Linked DNA regions of Homo sapiens. The protein of the gene in region 2 purifies or fractionates together with the protein of the main gene of each other region. This does not show direct contact. Each region holds a gene or a part of one and is shown on either strand. Other genes may lie near its edges.

Evidence for each region. The genes of interacting proteins can lie anywhere in the genome.
Region 1: the proteins of SLC4A1AP (region 2) and STK26 fractionate together in Homo sapiens (co-fractionation; one large-scale study listed by BioGRID). This does not show direct contact.
Region 3: the proteins of SLC4A1AP (region 2) and DCLK1 fractionate together in Homo sapiens (co-fractionation; one large-scale study listed by BioGRID). This does not show direct contact.
Region 4: the proteins of SLC4A1AP (region 2) and PAK4 purify together in Homo sapiens (co-immunoprecipitation; one large-scale study listed by IntAct). This does not show direct contact.

What each region holds. Positions count from the first base shown.
Region 1 is NC_000023.11:132,064,802-132,068,301, reverse strand, and holds part of STK26 (serine/threonine-protein kinase 26), read right to left. Parts: intron 88-3,500; coding exon 1-87. UniProt on the Homo sapiens protein: Serine/threonine-protein kinase that acts as a mediator of cell growth. Modulates apoptosis. In association with STK24 negatively regulates Golgi reorientation in polarized cell migration upon RHO activation.
Region 2 is NC_000002.12:27,673,889-27,677,388, forward strand, and holds part of SLC4A1AP (kanadaptin), read left to right. Parts: intron 1-1,643; coding exon 1,644-1,804; intron 1,805-3,406; coding exon 3,407-3,476; intron 3,477-3,500.
Region 3 is NC_000013.11:35,806,383-35,809,882, reverse strand, and holds part of DCLK1 (serine/threonine-protein kinase DCLK1), read left to right. Parts: intron 1-787; coding exon 788-865; intron 866-1,562; coding exon 1,563-1,659; intron 1,660-3,500.
Region 4 is NC_000019.10:39,128,786-39,132,285, forward strand, and holds part of PAK4 (serine/threonine-protein kinase PAK 4), read left to right. Parts: intron 1-3,500. UniProt on the Homo sapiens protein: Serine/threonine-protein kinase that plays a role in a variety of different signaling pathways including cytoskeleton regulation, cell adhesion turnover, cell migration, growth, proliferation or cell survival.

The DNA of each region.
Region 1 (3,500 bases), on a different chromosome or scaffold from region 2:
CTTTTCTGAATGCAGATAGTCCAGACCTTTTAAAATTTCCTTTAGCATGGTAGCAATCTGGAACTCATCAAATGGACCAGCTCGAAGCTTAAGGGGAAAAACACACACACACATACACATATGTGTAAAAGTTTGGAAACATAAAATTCAAAATTGGTACCTTTGAAATGAAGAAATCACTTAGACACATGATGCCGTTCTGTTTATCAAACCAATATCTAAACAAGGAAGGAAAAATGTAAAATGTGAAGGAAGAAAGCAAAAGAGTTCAGTCAAAGGGCTGAACAGGTTTTTTAATGATTCAATTTAATGAAAGATAATACGAGCCCTTTTACCTATATACTAGGCTTCAAATTCTGAGGTTCCTGAATATTTACATCAAAGATGAAACAAATATGCTTACGTAATGACAGAACCAACTATCTGTTCTTTAGATGGAAAAAAAGAGAAATCAGCTACTTAAATTCAGGCAATTGCTGTGAAAAAGTTACTACATATTGACACGAAACTGATTTTTAGGTCAGAGAATCCATAAGATTTCCACAGCAACTATTTGATCATATCAGTCAGCATTTATGTATTTTAATAATATTGCAAAGAATAGCCTTTTTGAGACTCAAATTGTAAATTTAGCCAAGAATATAATAATTAAACTATTCAGACTATGATGGTAAAAAAAAATTAAATCATGGAGGGATAATGTTTTTCAAATAAATGTAACACATATCCCTTTATTTCCCCATCCCTGTACCAAAGCCAATAGTTCCAACTGGAATACAAGGAAAGCAATGATTAGGTTTCAGGAGAACTTGTAATGGAATATCTGAAAATCCCTCTTTAAAATAAATGGTTATTTTAAAATTCTGGTACCTCATAAAGCACAAACAGTGGACTGTACAATATTATTACAGGAAAGGGTGGGAATCTAAAGTCAGAGCAGAGGTAGAGTTCTGTTTGCTTCTGGAAGGAGGGAAGAGGTGGTGAAAATCAAACATTGCCCACTCTGCCTCACACTGGGAGGGATCCACAGCTCTTTGGCACCTTGTGTATTTCATCTTTCATGAATGCCATATTTATGCTGAATAAAGGGCACTTTCATGTTGAAATTTAACAGCTTAAAATAGAACTCATACTTTGGTCTCACCATCTAATATTAACTGTGGTCTGGGTATATAGTATACTCCAGGGATATCTGTAATTCAATAGGTCCCTTTCCTAGGTAACATTATCTACTTACTTTCAAATCTATCAACTTCCACCCCAAAGTTTCTATTCAAACAGTAGTGATTAAAATAGTTTCTAAAGTCTTCTAGAAAGGTTGAAAATGGCATACTATTTTGTTGATGGCTGGCAATGAACTTCTGAGGTACTACAAAATAACTAAAGGACAAATGTCACACTACTTAAGATCAGTAATTAGTATCATCTGATCACAGGACATTGGCAAGACCAGGGGAGGTATATCCTTGGTTATTTCAGTGATTGGGCAAGATTAATGTACGACCTACTAGCTATCATTCTGAAGGACATGTAAAAGTAACATAAATAAGCCAGTATATTACCTAATACAGAAGTTTTTAAAAATATTTAAGTAAAAACAACAAAAAGGGGATCCCAAAGATTCATGAGCTTATCTGCTATATTTTAGGTTCATGTTAAAATTCAATAAAAGTGAAATCTCAATTAACTGGGTGCTAGAGGAGGATGGGAAGAAAGACTCTGTGGCAGGGAGACTTCTCCATTTGAACTTTTCTCCGATAACTGAAGAACTTGCCATGTCTCTAACAGATAATATCTCTGTCCCAGGGCAGTGTACTTGCCTTGTGTAATTTGCCTCTGTTGTCAAGTAAGAATATGCAAGAGAGGGACCTTGACTCTTTCGAAGACTGTACATTTGTGAGCTCATGGATCTTTGTCACAATTTAACTTCCAGCCAGTCCCTAATGCAGTCTGCTATTTTATGCCCTCTCTTATGGTTAGCATATTGTTTCTTTTTTCTTGGGGCTCATGTTTTATTCTAGTCATCTTATTATATGTGTTTTTGTTGCAAGCCACCACGATTCTTTTTGGAAAGAAGTGGAGCATAATAAACTCAATAAAATGATGTGCAATATACTCAAAGTCTGCTCACATACAATAAATTGTTTTTCAAGAATGGGAGTGACTCAAGGTAGACACTGTATAATGTTAACATAAATGACAAGTTGTAATCTTATGTTATTCCATTAGTTAGGTACCAGGCACCAGTTTAATGTGAGAAACACTCTCTGCTAAACATCCCTCTTATTTCCTCTTGTTCTTAGTAGCAGAGCCTTCCTCTACACCTAATCCTGTCTTAGATTCCCCCAAATGATAGCATTTATTTGTACAGGAATATACATGAAAAAGGAATAGCACATTTTCTCATTATCTGCTCTCCCTGTAAAGTCTAGTTAAATGAGTTTTATAATTAAATCACAATATTATTGAATTTTAGAGCTAAGAACACAAAATTAGAGATTACTGATTCAATTTCTTCATTTAACATGTGAATAAATTAAGACACAAGGAGGCTAAAGGGCCGCCCAATATTTGCCAGGCAGTCAGTGTTAGCACTGGGTTTATGACCTAGGCCTTTTGATTCTTAACCAATACAGTACTAACAACATTTTTCATTCATTGAAACTGTTATTAATGGCTATTTGTTTTATTAAGTAGAGTTCAGAATAGCAGGATGAGATTAAGATCTCACAATCATTTAACTTGGAGATTTCATAAAACTGACCAAACTACTAATAGGGGACACAGATTTGGGTCATTGGTTGGGGTTAGGCCAGTGTTCACTGTTTAACATTGCTATCAGTGATCCTGTTGAACAGAGTGGCCTAGCTTTGCCAGTGCTTCCAAAATGGGGAAGAGATATGGTGAGCACCCTGAGGAACCAGATAAGACAACTGATAAATTTGGAAAGGGCTCTTAATATTCAAAAAATGGAAGGAGGATCATGAAACAATTGAGAGGCTTCTTGTAGAGCTAATGAAAAAACTATTGAATAATATGACTCTGTGACAAGACAAATAGAAATGAGATCATTTAACTTCAAGAGGAGAATGAAGCCTGACTCCATATGCATGAAGGATTATTACACAAAGAAACATCAGTGGTGTTCTCTCACTAGAGACGAGAGAAAAAAAATGAACTCAGGCTTTAGGATATAAGAATTAGATTAGACACAAGGAAAGATTACCAAATTCAGCAACTGATTAAACTGACATGAATTCCTAGTAGTAGATGAGGCTCTCCATCAAGTTTAATTACCATTTCTTTAAAATGGTTTAAATATGGTTCTGCCTAAAGGAAAGAAAATCTCTTATAGTCATTTCTGTTCATAAAATTATTTGAAGCTTTGAGTTACTGGCAGTCAAGGTTAAAGCCTTTTAAAAATATTTAATCACTTTCAGTTAGGAAAACTCATCTCCACCTAAAAAAATAAGAATTAAAATATTACTTGATTATTTTAA
Region 2 (3,500 bases):
AACAGGAGTGAAGGAACAACTGCATGAACCAGAACCTCAAGTTCTGAAACCATAACTTAGTACTACCAAAGTAGACTCAGCATCACCAGGACATATACAAGTTGTGTGTGTGTGTGTGTGTGTGTGTGTGTGTGTGTGTGTGTCTGTGAGTGAGTCTGTCTCACGAGTGCATTTTTAAACTTTGCAGACAGATTCTTACCCTGTGCTGAAAAGCTGATTGCTTACAGCCCTGAACTTAACAGTCTCTCACTTTAATAACCTCATTGTAAAGAGAGCCTCTTTGCCCCATCTCTAAATATAAATATGAGGGAAAGAGTCTTACTGATTTGGCTTTGGTCCTATGACTATCCCTAAACCAGATAAAATGGGGGAGGAATTTTCTAGGGGAAAGAGGTACTTTTATCAGAACAAAGGGAGTAGAATGTTGTAGGGTGAACAAAAAAGTAATAGCTGTCATAGTTTCTTATTGATGGACTCTTTACATATTCACTGTTATAAATACTATTGCATTGATATTTATAGAATAAATTCCTAGAAGTGGAATTGCTGGATCAATGCATTTTTAATGGCAGATATTGTAGGCTTGACCATCAAAAAGGTTGTATCAATGTACATTCCCACCAATTATTAATCTTTTTATGTTTTTCTAGTCTAATAGATGAGAAGTATCTAATTTTTAAATTTGTACTTTATTTTTTTTTAAAGTAACATATTTAAAAATATTTATTGTATTTTTCTGTGAACTGCTTTCATTATCCTTTTTCAAATTTTCTTTTGGGTTATTGTCCTTTTTCTCATTTTTCATTTTCCTTTTTTCCTCATTGATTTTTTTTTTTTTTTGAGATAGAGTTTCACTCTTGTCACCCAGGCTGGAGTGCAGTGGCGCTTTCTCGGCTCACTGCAACCTCTATCTCCCAGGTTCAAGCAATTCTCCTGCCTTAGCCTCCTGAGTAGCTGGGATTACAGGCACCCGCCACTATGCCCATCTAATTTTTGTATTTTTAGTAGAGACGGGGTTTCACCATGTTGGTGAGGCTGGTCTTGACCTCAGGCGATCCATCCCCCTTCAGCCTCCCAAAGTGCTGGGATTACCATGCCTGGCCATCCTCATTGATTTTTAAAAGCCGTTTGCTCATTAAATAAATTAACTATTTGCTTTAATGAAAAATTATTTAATAAGAAATTGTGGGAAAATATACATAACAGAAAAGTGTACCATTTTAAGCATTTTAAGAGTATCACTCAGTGGCATTAAGTACATTCACAATATTATGGAACCATCAACACTGTTCATTTTGGAACTTTTTTATCATTCCATACTGAAATTGGTATCTGTTAAACACTAACTTCATTCTCCCTCCTTCCCAGCCTCTGGCAACCACCATTCTACTTTTCTGTCTCTATGAATTTGACTACTTTAGGTATCTCACATGATGCAGTAAGTGTCCTTTTATATATGGCTTATTTCACTTAGTATAATGTCTTCAAGGTTTAGCCCTTTGTTTTTATACGTAGTTTGGCAGCTTGTAGAACCTCTCTTTCAGTAGTTGATGGTGACATTTTAAGCTCCTTGCCTACTTGCCTTCTTTCTTTTTCTTTTCTTTTTTAAAAACTTATTTATTCATCATTTTATCTACCTCTAGTATCTCGGAAAAGGAAAGCCAAGAACTGGGAAGATGAAGACTTTTATGATAGTGATGATGACACATTTCTTGATAGGACTGGCCTGATTGAGAAGAAGCGTCTGAACAGAATGAAGAAGGCTGGCAAGATTGATGAGAAGCCAGAGACCTTTGAATCATTGGCAAGTTTTATTTATGGAAGTAGCTGTGGTATTTAATAGTTTAATTTTTAATAACATAATGTATTATTTAAATATGTTTTATGATAATTTTTAAAGTAGTAGCATTGAAATCTGATACTGAAGTATAACTTTTGTGGTCTGTTAATTTAATGGTAACAGACAACTAGTCTTATCCAAGTTGTTTGAAAAAAATATGGCTTGCTGCTAGATCCTTTCCTTCAGGATATTGATCCATTAATTAACATTCTTTGGATATGATATTACCTCTCTCAAAAGGAAAGGAAAAAGTTCCAAGTTAGGGCGTTCTGAGGTGAAATTGACTTTAGCCTTCTGGCAGTCAAGAGAAGTCAAAGGAATTTTGAAGAATGTAGTATGGTAATATGTAGTCTGAAACAGTATGTTCTTCAGGAAATTATCACAAGGTGACGTGTTAATGGGTAGGTAACAGACAATAATAGGCAGGTAATAGGCTACCTATTAGACTAGAAAAAAACATAAGATTAATAATGCAGAGCTTGACCAGAATATGGAGAAGTAGACTCTCAATTGGTGGGAATGTACAATACAACCTTTTAAGTGATCAATCCTACGACATCTGTCAGTATTAAAAATGCATTGATTCAGCAATTGCACTTCAAGGAATTTGTTACAGGTATTAATTTATAGTAGGATTCAGAGCTTAAAACATTACCCAACATCTATCCTTTTGATTTATGTGAAAACAAATGCCTTGAGCTCTTTCTTCTGAGTAAAATGAAGTCCGAGTTATTCATTCTGTTTAATTCTGTGTTTTTTAATTCAGAAATAAATTAAATTTGGATTTAACACATAAAAAGTGTTAACTCCTGGCTGGGCATGGTGGCTCATGCCTGTAATCCCAGCACATTGGGAGGCTGAGGCCGGTGGATCACCTGAGGTCAGGAGTTCGAGACCCACCTGACCAATGTGGTGAAACCCCACCTCTACTAAAAAAAAAAAAATACAAAAATTAGACAGGCGTGGTGGTGTGTGCCTGTAGTCCTAGCTACTCTGGAGGCTGAGACAGGAGAATTGCTTGAATGCAGGAAGCAGAGGTTGCAGTGAGTCGAGATCACGCCATTGCACTGCAGCCTGGGTGACAGTGCGAGACTCCATCTCAAAAAAAAAAAAAAAAAACTATTAACTCTGGCCAGGTGTGGTGGCTCACACCTGTAATCCTAGCACTTTGAGAGGCTGAGGCAGGCTGATCATGAGGTCAGGAGATTGAGACCATCCTGGCCAACATGGTGAAACCCTGTCTCTACTAAAAATACAAAAAGTAGCTGGGTGTGGTGGTGCACACCTGTAGTCCCAGCTACTTGGGAGGCTGAGGCAGGAGAATCGCTTGAACCCGGGAGTCGGAGGTGGCAGAGAGCCGAGATTGCACCACTGCACTCTACCCTGGCAACAGAATGAGGCTCTATCTCAAAACAAAAAAAAAAGTGTTAACTCCATAAGTAGCAGTTTAACTGGACTTTTGAATTAATCTTCTTAAAACTTCTAGTAAGAATAATTAAAACAGGAGGATGAAAAACAGTTTGAAAGAAGAAAAACTTTGTAACCCTGTTGATTTGGGTGTTACAGGTTGCAAAATTAAATGATGCTGAAAGGGAACTTTCTGAAATTTCTGAGAGATTGAAAGCCTCAAGCCAAGGTAAGTTTTTCATCAAATATTTAT
Region 3 (3,500 bases), on a different chromosome or scaffold from region 2:
TTGTACCATAGACCACAAGGGCAGAAAAACCAAATAGATGAGAAGGGAATCCCAATAGGGAAATTCCTGAGGCGAGATGTGAGGGAATGAGGACTTTGCTACTTGGCAAATTTGAATGAGGTGGGAGCCCACATCCATAGCCTTGTCTGACCTCCCTCAGGTGGGGCTGCCTGGGGCACAGACACACTTTCTACTGGGACATGCTCTGCTTGCTGCTGGGAGGAAGTGGTGGGTCTTGAAGACCATATTGGGGACCAGCTCTGACACTAACTGTGTGATCTTAAGCAAAATTACTCACCCATCTGAACCTGTTTTCTCTCTTCTGTACAATAAGCAATACTTGTCTTGTCCAACCTACAGAGTTGCTAGGAAAACAAAGTACGATCATGTATGTCAGTGCTCTATAAATTGGAAAACGTTCTAGAAATAATTATTATTCCTAAAGTGAGGGAGTTTATCTCAAGGGTCCATCCTTATCTCAGAATTGTTATTACTATAATAAACCTTTTTGCTGAAAACCTTCATTTACTGATATTTACAAATAAGTCCAGCAATGCATTCCTTTGATTTTTATTCCTGCACCTTGGTCTTTTTTAAAATTATTATTTTTTAAACTTTTTCTTTGAACTCTGTTTAGGTGGTGGGTTTTAGTTTAGCGTTTGTTGTTGGGATTGTTATTTTGTTTGGTTTTATTTTTGGCTTGGAGGAGGAAAGTCATTGATTTTACCAAGCTGCATAATTTGTCCGAGCCTGACCCTCCTAACTCTAACATCCCTTATTTTTCCAGATACGGCCTCAAGGTGGACATCTGGGCAGCAGGTGTAATCACTTATATCCTGCTGTGTGGTTTCCCTCCATTCCGTGGGTATGGGCAACAATCTTTTATTCAGCGCCGACAAAGCATTTCTCTACTCTCTGAGTGATCCATTAGCCCTTCTTGCACAAAGGAGCCTGCAGCAGGAAAAGAGCACAAGAACTTTACTTGCAATCCCTGTTATTTTTTCCCTGTTATGTCATGCATGCTAATTTATATGCCTTCCATATTTCTTCCCCATATCATTAAAAACTCATTCTTTCTTTTTTTTTTTTTCTTTCTGGTTTTGAGACAGAGTCTCTCTTTTGCTCAGTCTGGAGTGCAGTGGCACAGTCTCAGCTCACTGCAACCTCTGCCTCCCAAGTTCAAGCAGTTCTCCTGCCTCAGCTTCCTGAATAGCTGGGATCACAGGCGTGCGCCGCCACACCAGTTACTTTTTGTATTTTTAGTAGAGATGGGGGTTTCACCATGTTGGCCAAGCTGGTATTGAACTCCTGACTTCAAGTGATCTACCTGCCTCAGTCTCCTGAAATGCTGGGAATACAGGTGTGAGCCGCCGCACCCGGCCCAAAAACTCTTTCTTAATTTACCAAAACAGATCCACATTGACATTTTTCAATCGATTAAAAATACACATTTTTACACATTTATGGGGGGAAAGGAAGGGCTCCAGTGCCTAAGACTGAAAAGATGTACACTGAGTTGATATCTTAGTGCTGTTTTTCCTTGTTGTCGTTCACCTAAACAGAAGTGGTGATGACCAGGAGGTGCTTTTTGATCAGATTTTGATGGGGCAGGTGGACTTTCCTTCTCCATACTGGGATAATGTTTCCGATTCTGCAAAGGTAGGTGTCCAGTGCCTTCCTCTTCCCTATATTCTGTGTGTCTTAACGGAATTATTTTTCCAAATCATTGTGTGCAAAGAAACTAATGACATCATAAGTATGATTTCTGTACACATTTTAGTTGTAATTGCTAGGTTTTCCAAGATTTCACAGTCATCAAGTCATCTGTTCCCAGACATCCCAACAAGTACTTATCAAGTGTCTCCATCTGCTGCCTTCATCTCTCTCAGGTGCCATTCCAGTGACATTGCTATAGCCTCTTGCTGTGCCCCACCCTCGCCAGGCTTGAGCCCAGCTCAGATTTCTATATGGCCTGTGGTTTCACCTCTCTCAGCTCTTGACTTAATGACTTAATTTCCCAGTGAAGCCTTCCCAGACCATCCTGGTTCCAATTGCATCTCTTAAACCTTACCTGGCTTGCTGTATCCTACTTGTCTGTTTTATTTTTCTCCAGAACACTTAACACCTGTGTGTCCATCTGGTGTGCTATCTAACTACCTATCTCTCTACCCAAAAAAAGATAGATATAAATAAGTAGGCATGTCTTCTTTATATAGTTCATTTCCAGACTCTCTCCACTAGAATGCAAATTCTGCGAAGGCAGGGATTTTTATCTATTTTGTCCATTGCTGTACTATCCCTGCCTAAAGTATGACCAGCATACTGGTGCTCAATGTATACTGAATAAATGAACAAGTATATGAATGAATCCATCAATTAATCAGAAGGAAGAAAACTCAACCTCAACGTAGGTTGAAATCATCAAGAAAGACTTTATGGGGAAGCTATGATTTAAGTTGAACCTTGAATAATAGCCAGGATTTAGAGGCAGAGGGGGAGGAAAACACAAGGTTCATTGTTTTTATCCCATGAAACTAAAAGATCAGTCCTTAACATGGATGAAGGTGATGGTTGCACAACAATGTGAATGCACTGAATGTCAGTGAACTGTGCACTTGAAAATGGTTGAAGTGGTAAATTTTATGTATATTTTACCACATTAAATAATATTTATGATAAATCAACTTCTAAGAAGGCTATAAAAATCTTACATTGAGATGTTTGTAGACCTTGAGGAGAAAAAGGAAAACCTTTTCATTGCTCTTTTTAAAATTTATGTCTCCGAGTGCTGACTTAAATGTTTAAAAATTTGAGAAAAATGTTCTCAATAATTATCTTGAGAAATAATTATCTTTTGATTGCTCAATGTTTATGCCTTTGCTTTTGTCATGTCCTGAATGTGAGTTCCCTTTAAAAGCCAACCCCTCAGACATGACCACTTTGTGTAGAAAATGATGCATATTGAGTGCAAGTCTCTCATTTTCTTCAACTGTCCAGGAAGCTGCCAGAAAGGGAGTGTCAGAGAAAGGCGCAGGCTAAAGGAGATGGGACGATACAGCTGCAGGGCCGGGGGCTCTTCAGGAACCTGTCCAGCTCCCCATGCCATCACTGCAGGATCTGAGGGCTCACAGTTACTGACAAATAGGACCATCTCCTACACCTCCATAGCACCTGCAAAGGGCATCACACACAGCAGATACTTTCACGAGTTCTGATCCAAGTTAGAAACTGAATGAAGAAGGCTGAGTGAACTCTCTCCCTCAATGAAATTAAATCACCCCCTTCCCGAGTGGTACTATAAAGCCTGTGTATGTAAGGAACTGGATAATGCATATCTAACCATTTTGTGACATGGGAACTTCTAATCCAGAGTGGACAATTGTATAGCATACTCATCGTTAAGACCCAGGTAGAGCATTCCTGGTCCAAGTCCATTTGAGCTCATGAGGAAGTTCCATTAATTTCAGGATGATGAAATTGTTTACCTCTCAATAGTTCTA
Region 4 (3,500 bases), on a different chromosome or scaffold from region 2:
TTTCATACTTTGACTGCCCTTGAATGTATTCACCAACAGTAGAGCAACAGCTCTTGCCCCTGGCTGCACATTGCAACTCCCTGGAGAGCTTTGAAAAGATGCCTTGGCCCAGGCCCGCCATGGAAATTCTGCTTCCAACTTACTTGGTCTGGGCTGGGGCTGGCCTCAGGCTTTTGGAAGCTCCCTGGGCAGTTCTTATGGCCAGCAGGGGCTGACGACTGTTGTTTCACAGTTCAGATAAATGGTGTCACCATAAACATGCCTTTCTGCAAGTTGCTGTTTTTGTTCAACATTATAGGTATATTTGAGATGGGATCTTGCTATGTTGCCTAGACTGGACTCTTAACTCCTGGGCTCAAGCTATCCTCCCACCTCAGCCTCTGGAGTAGCTGGGATTACAGGCGCGCACACCTGCTCCCCGCTTTGAGCTGAGCATTGGAGTCTGGATGTCTCTTGGTGGGGATGTGTGTAGGCCTGGGACAGGCCATTTGTTTTTCCTGATGGTGTTTCTTTTTGTGATCGTGTCACACAGGAGTTGCCTGTTCACCTGTTGATGGCCACTGAGGTGGTCCGTTGGAGCTATAACCGTGCAGCAGTGGGCCTTCTGGAACGCGTGTTCCTGTAGACCATGGCCAGAGTCTCTCTGGCATATGCCTAGTAGTGGAAAAGCCGGAGCTCCCCGCTTTCCTAGCGGTTGCCAAGTCATGCCCCCAGTGGCTGGACCACTGTGCTCCCCAGCAGGCTCCGGGGCTCCCTTTATTTCAAGTCCTGCTTTGGGCAGCTTTGTGGCCCTCACTGAAACGATTTCCTCGGCCGTGACATGGGAGGTTTATGGGCCCACCCACCCACCCACCAGGCTGTTTGGAAACAGATGGGGAGATGGTTCACACAACTGGCTTAGCTGGGACCTCGTCCCCACTGACTCCCTACAACCACAGGAGAAGAAAGGATGGAAGGGCTTTCACCTTTACCCCCTTGGGCATCCAGGACGGTGACTGCAGCTTTGCCCCAACTGCCCTTGGGGGCAGGTGCCAGGGGTGACAGCTGGGAAAGAGAACTATACTGATTCGAACCTCTCAGGAGGGAGGCAGGGAGGACGGAGGTGAAAGTTGGAGGATGGGTGAGGCCTTGTAACATTCTTTCTGTGTATCTGACTGTTGGTCCCAGTGGTAACCAACACAGCCCAGCTCTACCCTTGTAGATTATAGTACAGTGAAGGAGACAGACCTGCTGTCCCCAGACGGTGACAGCCCAGAGAGGCCAGGGCTGTGAAGGAGAGGCCTAGGCGAGGGTCAGGGCGGGATGTGGGGGGGACCCAGGCAGAAGGGTCAGGGCGGGATGTGGGGGGGACCCAGGCAGAGGGGTCAGGGTGGGGTGGTGGGACCCAGGCAGATGGGTCATGGCGGGATGGGAGCGGGGACCCAGGCAGAGGGATCAGGGTGGGACTGGGGGGGACCCAGGCAGAGTGGTCAGAGAAGGATGGGGAAACCCAGGCAGAGGGGTCAGGGCGGGATGGGGAAACCCAGGCAGAGGGGTTGGGGCTGGATGGTGGGGAGGGGCACAGAGAGGGATTGGGACTGGGATGGAGGCGCAGGGACCGTAGGAAGCCCGAGGAGGCATGTGGCCCAGCGTGGGGAGTTGAGGAGGGCTTTCTGGATAAGATGACATCTGACTGATGAGAACATATGAGCGAGGCTGGAAGGAGGTGGAAAGAATGTAACAGGTCATGGGTACGGAAGTGCCAAGGCCCTGAGGGTCGGAATGACCTCGGAATGGTCGAGGATCATCAGATAGGCCGGTGTAGGCTATGCTGTGCACCCTGACTGTGTGGTAGCCTTGCTCTGCAAAGAGCAGTTAAAGAAATACATAAAATATAAAATAAATAAATAAATAAAAAAGCAAAAAAAAGAAGCCAGTGTGGCTGAGCAGGGGGTGGGGTCAGAGGCTTGGAGGCGGTGTTGGATACAGCAGGGCCTAGCAGAGCCAGGTGGGGTGTGTGGATTCCATTCTGTGCATAATGGGAAGTCATCAGAGGCTTTAGTGACATCTGGTTTTCCCCTTATAAAGATTGCTCAGGCTGCTGTGTGGGGGACGGATCGCGGGGGGTGGCGACAGGGAGGCTGTGGGGAGGCTGCTGTGACAGTCCAAGCAGAAGAGGGTGGAGAAGACGAGGGGACAGTGATGGAGGAGCGTCCTCGTGCCAGCTGAGGTCATCAGCGCTTTACCCCTGTTACCTCACTTCATCTTCACAGCAACCTGTGAAGTAGGTGCTAGTATCATCCTCACTCTAGAGATGAGAAAGGAGGCCCAGAGAGGTACGGGACTTGCTTAAGGTCACACAGCAGGCAGTGGCAGAGGTAGGATTGAACCCCAGGCCTTGGGGCTTCAGTGTCACTGATTACTGGGGCTGCCCTCCCGTGGTTTGGAACTGGCTCGGACAAGACAGGCCTGATTCCTGTTCAGCTGGTTCTTACCCAGGCTCCTTTGTTGACAGAAGTTCCGTGGAGACCTGTTCCCCCTGGGTAGTTTCTGGGCGCTGGGTCCCTACCTCCCTCAGGGCCTCCCTTTCCTTTCTCATCTACTCCTCGTCCCACTGGCTCGTGGTGAGCCAGACTTCCTGGCCAGACACCGGTCAGGGGTGTCCCCAGCAGCTGTTTCTCCCATCACCGAGCCCAGCCCCGCACATGCTGCCAGCAGGAAGCAACCTCCTTCCAAGTCATGGCCAGGGAAGTGGGACCCTTCCCGCCTAGTCACCCATCCGGGGCCAAGGCTTCTTGTCTGCCAGACGCCTTGGCCCACAGGAAGGTTGGAGGGGCCGAGGAGGGTGAGAAGGGGAACACTCTCCCATCCCAGGGGAGCCAGCGCTGGCGGATGCGACAGAAGCCACCGCTCACTGAAGCCTCTCTCCTGGGACCCTCCGGTCCTGCCCCGACCCTTCCCAGGCTGGGAGGCCATCTGCTGCCTTCCCGAGGGGCAGTGGAACTTCCCTGCCAGGGCTGCTCAGTCCACACACATCCCTTAGCCTTTTTCACTAGCTGGGAGCCCCTGGGGAAGAGACAAAGAACTTCCCTGGGCCTCTGATTCCTCACCTGTTACAGGGAGTATTGGTGGCCACCTCTCAGGGCTGTGGGAGGGCGGAAGATCATGTGTGTGCGTCGTGCTTAGCCCGATGCTCAGCACTCAGTAAGTGCTTGGTAAATGTTGAACTTGGTGCGTTCGATGGTTTCCGTCCCTTGCACCCTGTCCCCCTCTGGGTTCTCATCCCGTAGTGAGCTGTAATAACCCCAGCCCCCCGCCCGGGGTCCCAGCTCCACGTGCCAGGCACGCGTGTGCTGTGAGTCTATGAGCATGGTCATGTGGCTGTACCCAGAGACCCTGAGGAGGAGGTGTTTTTAACCTCGTTTCTCTTTTCCCGTGTTTCAATTTTCAGAAAGCACGTTTTTCCTCCATGTGCATGCATTACCTATTCCCCTAAATAATCACTGAAAAACTGCACACAG